Linked DNA regions of Homo sapiens: region 2 is linked to region 1. Evidence: fine-mapped expression QTL. Tissue or cell type: non-classical monocytes. Region 1 holds a variant in brackets; the other region holds the start of a gene. All regions are shown on one strand. Distances are from middle to middle.

Evidence for each region. PIP is the estimated chance that this variant, and not a neighbour inherited with it, causes the effect.
Region 2: GPRC5C starts here. The variant in region 1 is fine-mapped to the expression of GPRC5C in non-classical monocytes (Schmiedel 2018, PIP 0.92).

What each region holds. Positions count from the first base shown.
Region 1 is chr17:74,729,904-74,732,655 of GRCh38, forward strand. It overlaps LOC124904057 (a long non-coding RNA gene), which reads right to left. Exons shown (of 3, transcript XR_007065905.1): 2 at 848-990; 3 at 1-433. It also overlaps a transcript of RAB37 not described here. Among named protein-coding and RNA genes, the nearest start is that of RAB37, 6.0 kb to the right of the region's middle. The variant A/G (reference allele first, on the strand shown) is at 1,415.
Region 2 is chr17:74,430,580-74,433,079 of GRCh38, forward strand. It overlaps GPRC5C (G protein-coupled receptor class C group 5 member C), which reads left to right and starts at 1,509. Exons shown (of 4, transcript NM_022036.4): 1 at 1,509-1,562. RefSeq lists a silencer at 382-521.

The DNA.
Region 1 (2,752 bases):
CCAAACTTAGCAGTCACACGGGTCTCAGGGAGCTGGCAGGCCCAGGTTACAGTTCCGTGTTTAGTCCTCGGTAAAATGGTAAAAGGGCAGCTCGGGTTAAGGAAGCCCAGTGCCCTCGGCTTTTTCTGCCCGCAGCCCCTCTGCGAGACAAGGGATCCCTCCTTTACCACACATCCCATCTCCCCGCGTTGTCCCGTGCCTGCGGCTGCAGCTGCCCTTGAATTCCTGGGAAGACCTTGGGAGAGGGTTCCACTCCTCTCTCGGGCTGTGGCAGGAAGAGCAGGGCCTTCCCTTGGGACTCCAGAATCCTAGCATCTCAAGATGGGGAAGAGCAAACATCTCTTCTTGGACAACGCGGATGTTTGGGAACCTCTGAGACCAGAGCACAGGGCCTGTGAGATCACGCTCAGGGTCAGGACGCAGCAGTGCCACACTGATGGGAAGAGAGAGAGGAAAACTCAGAAAAATGGGCTTGCCCACTGGGTCACAGCCAGGAAGGCAGGGGTTCAGAATGAACATGGCTTCTGCATGACCTTCCAGGAGGCAAAGCGGAAGTGAGTGCCTGGTTCGGGTGTGTTCTGGGGCCTAGAATCGGCCCTGAAACACCAGTTCCCAGGGCTCTCCCCAGACTGGGACCGGCTGGGCTCTGGTAGTGCTGAATAGGGAAGGGCTGAGACCCAGGAGGCCAAGGCTACCTGGCAATCCCTGAGGTCTGGGACCAGGCTGCCATGAAGCAAACCAGGATGACCTGGTGCCAGGCGTCACCCACCCCAGCCCAGGCCCAGTCTGCTCTCAGCAGCCAGGGCACACCCTGCCCTCAGGGTCACACCCGCATCTCCTCACCCACCCTTCTGCCTGTCTGGTGAGGAAGGAAGAGAGTGGGGTGGATGTGGCTGTGGACATGCAAAGTCTGACTCACGTTCCACAGACCACAGAGGTGAGATCTCCAAATTTTGCCGCTAGCTTGGCAAGAAAATTGAGGCCGATTTCCTGTGAAGGAAAAAGAAAGTGTGTGGTCAAACTGTTTGTCTAGCCTGAGATGAGACACACTGGGCTTTCCCACTGACCTCAGGGTGGGCCTCCTAGAGCCTGGGCTGCCTGCTTGGTACCAGCCAGCACCCGATGTTCTGGTGCATCTCAGGACAAACCTGTTGCCTGCTTACGCTGAGTGAGGACCTGAGCCCCTGGCCAGAAACTCAGCCTGGGGACACCTGAGCAAAGAACTGGTGGACATCGGGGTCTCCTCCAGATATCAGCGGTCTGGGGGTCCCCGGAGAGCCAGGCTACAAGACACTTGTTTACCCATCTGTCCTTCTCACGGAGATTTGAGATATGGCATGGATAAGGGCCCTGCCGCTGGCCAGGCTGTAGCCTGCAACTCCTGCATGATGGGAAGGGAGGCAGGTGCTGCCAC[A/G]GGCTCCGCTCAGGAGGCTGAGTGCCGCCCAGGTGGCAGGGGAGGGACAGAGCCCCTGGTCTCCCACTTTGGAGGAGCCAGAGGTGAGCAGGGTGACTACCTCGGGCATGCCTTCACCCATAAACTACCAGGCCCATCGCCTTCTGGAAGTGGGACCTGCCCAGGTCCTGTGTAGATGCCTCTCAGTCAAGACCTTCCCTAAATTCTCCACTACCAGCCCCATCAAACTGGCTGTGGGGGTCGTGCTGATGGGGTTATGGCACACTGATGTCGATGGGGTTCACACAGGGGTCTTTCCAGTCCACCACAGTTCAGGTCCTCCTTGTTACCTCTCTCCTCAGTTTCCCCCAAATTCCCTAGTCTTGCCTAAACACTGATGCAAAATTCCTCTTTCAAAACCTTCACTCAGGCCAGGCGTGGTGGCTCACACCTGTAATCCCAGCACTTTGGGAGGCCGAGGCGGGCGGATCACTTGAGGCCAGGAGTTCAAGACCAGCCTGGCCAACATGGCAAAACCCCTTCTCTACTAAAAATACAAAAACGTTTGCCAGGCGTGGTGGCACACGCCTGTAATCCCAGCTACTTGGGAGGCTGAGGCAAGAGAATCACTTGAACCTGGGAGGCGGAGGTTGCGGCGAGCCAATATCATGCCATTGCGCTACAGCCTGGGCAACAGAGTGAGACTCCATCTCAAAACAACAACAACAAAAAAAAAAAAACACCTCACTCTGCTCATCCCCCACCTGAACATTCACGGTTCACTATTACCTTCCAAATAAAGTCTGAATCTCTCATCTGTTGGTCAAGCTGTTGCACAGTTTAGACCAGTGGTTTTCGAACACTCCTTCAGCGCACATAAAAGCCTCCAGGGGGAAGCTCATCTGAAATGCAAATTCTAAGCTCCCTCATACACATGCTGCTTCAGTAAAACCACGTGGGGGGCCCAGAATCTGGGGGTTCTGACCCAGGGGGTCCATGCGCCACATTTTGCAAAACATGAGTTGAGGCCTTGTCCCTCCAGTCTCTGCCCGGGTCTCCTTCCCACATCCCGACCCTGTGCTCTTTGGGCTGTGCTGTTCCCCAGCTCTGAAGTTTTCTGCCATCGACCTGGATAGCAGGGAGTCCCCTGCCCCCATCTCTGCAGGTGTGATTTGAGGTGTGTGTGGTGAGGTGATTTGAGGGGTGTGGCAGGTGTGTGGTGTGATTTGAGGTGCGTGGTGAGGTGTGTGGTGTGATTTGAGGGGTTAGGTGTGTGTGGTGTGAGTGTGTGTGTATGGTGAGGTGTGTGTGTCTGGGGTGTGATTTGAAGTGTGTGTGGTGTGAGGTGTATGTGGTGTG
Region 2 (2,500 bases), 300 kb before region 1:
CCCAGACCAGCCCGTGAGGGCAAGGCCAGGAAGGGATACAGGGTTCTAGAGAACCAGGGCCTCACCGCCAGCTCCGGCCGCTAAGCAAACATTCCCTCCAGGAGTCCGAGAAGCCGGTGTGCGAGGGGAGGAACCAGCCTGAGGTTTATCGCTCCAGCAACTCCGGGTGATTCATAGAGTTTAGACTCCCGGTTGTCGTAGACCGCGGCAGGCACGCAAACAAGCAGCCCGGGAGATACCCTCCCCTTTCCCAGCCCCCGCTCCTCCACCTTGCTACCCCCTAGCCCGTGACCAGCTGCCTCCCCTCCCCCTCGCGGGCGCTCAGGGTTGAGCAAACACTCCGGGCCGCCCGCCCCGCCACCAGCTGGCTCCGACCGGCGCACCGCTGGCGATCCCCCAGGCAATTCGGCGTCATGAGAACCGGCACCCCGAGACTCGGCGCCCTGCCCTCCCTCCGCGTCTCCAGGGCCCTGGCCAGGCCCAACAACCTCTCCCTCCTCTGTGCGCCTCAGCCCCTACGGGCCTCTGGCGCGGGCTAACTAGGCCTCGCTGCGGGCCCCCAGGACTGCGCACCCCACCCCCCGCGAGGCCAGCAGCCCCGGGGGAAGGCGGCCGGAAAATCTCTTGTTTATCGGGCTGGATAAGTACCAGCCTGGATTCGCTTCCCAATTTCTGCGGTCCAGCTTCAGCAGATTCCTGGGGCCGGAGGGGAAAGGGTGGCAACCCACAGATCCACCCCGGAACAGGGAGTGGGGGGTGGGGCTGGTGGGAACCTGACCTCCTGGAAAGGACGGACTCGGAGTCAGAGCCAACGTGTCCCGGAGCGCAGAGGCCCAGGGGGTCGCGCTAAACACTGTACCTCGGGGAACAAAACCGTGAAGGCTAATTAGGACAAGTCGGAGCAGGGAACGGGGACGCCGGGAGGGGAGAGCGCGCTCCGAGTTGGGCAGAACCTGGAACGGTCACAGGAAACCCGGGCGCGGGGTAGTCGGGCCGAGGGGGACCTTTGCCCACGGTCCAGAGTGGTCTGGACTCGGCCCACGCGTGAGAGGAGCGCTTGGTGACGATCCCACGTACGCTTGGTGACTGGTGGAGGTCCCAGAGAAGGACCGTGCGTGCAAAAGGCGAACCTCGGTGTGCGGTGTGTCCACGTGTGCAAGCTGGGGAGGGGAGGGGGCGCAGAAGGCGTGACAAAGACGGACTCTGTCTTGAGTGTGCGCCTCGCTCCGGCCCGCTCCCAGCGAACTGTGCCTGAAGTGTGTCTCACGGGAGGGCCAGGACGAAGGTGACAAAGGCTAGGTGTCCCCCACGGAGACGCGCCAAGGTAGCCCCGCGCGTGTCCGTAGGCGCGCTCTCTGGAAGACGCGGTGGGGGGTGCGCAGGGCTGCACCCTCACACCAATTGCCCCGGCGAAGGCCGAGCCCAGAAAGTGAGTGCGCGTGAGTGTGCGCGCGCCCGCATGCGGGGGCGTGGCAGTCAACAGCAACAACCCACACGCCGGCAGGGCCAGAAACTCCCATCTCCCTCACCAGCCGGAAAGTACGAGTCGGCTCAGCCTGGAGGTGAGTCGGGGCGGGGAGGGCCGGGCAGGCTTTGTTCCTGTGTAAACGGAGCGCACGTACCTGGAGCGCGGCGGGCGCCCGATTAGCGCCCTGAATGGAGGTGATGTAACGGTGATGCAGGCTCCAGCCCACCCTCGCCGAAAGCAAGGAGCCCTGCCTGGGGACAGGCCCGCGCGAGAGCGAGCAACCCAGCGCGCCTGGCTCAGCCTCGGTCCCAGGGAGAGGCAGGCCCTGCGTCCCGGCCCGGGCCCCGCCATCCCAGCCAGGACCGGGCCTGGCCCAGCGCCCCGCGCCGCGTCCCTCCCACCCCCGCCCGCCCCCCGCCTGGGGCTGGAGTTGGCCCCAAACGCTGCGCTGGAGCGGGGCCGGCGGCGAGTCCCAGGTAAGGGCTGCTGCCTTCCCGCTCCGCCGCCCGGAAGAGTCGGGTCGGGACGGCGGGGAGTGGGCGAGGGCAGAGGCGGGGGGACTGGACATCCTGCGGGCTGGGGACGCCGCGCCAACTCCGCTCGGTCGCTGAAAGTTTTCAAACCCGAGCCGGCTGGGGACTGGGGGGGTGGGGGAGCCCGGCGCTGCGGCTCGGGCTGGAGGGAGGGGAAACCACTCCATAATCGGGGTCTCCAAGAGGAGCCCCTCCACCGCCTGCCTCTCGGTGGGAGTCCGCGGTCACTCTCTCTCGTGGGTGGCGTCCTCTCTGCCGCCTGCTACTGTGGATGTGGAGGGCAGGTTTCTGTGGCCCTAAAAATGGGAGAGAGTGACTGGTTCCCTTGCTCCCCATTCCAGCCACCCAGGGAGCGCAGGTGTAGACCCCAGTACCGTCGACCCAAGTAGGGACGAGAGGGTTCAGAATCCCCCTGAGGGAAGTTTGGAAATTCAGACTATCAAAGCGCCTCCCCTTCTGGTAGCCTGGCCCCTAGATCCCGAACCCCCACTCCCGGCTG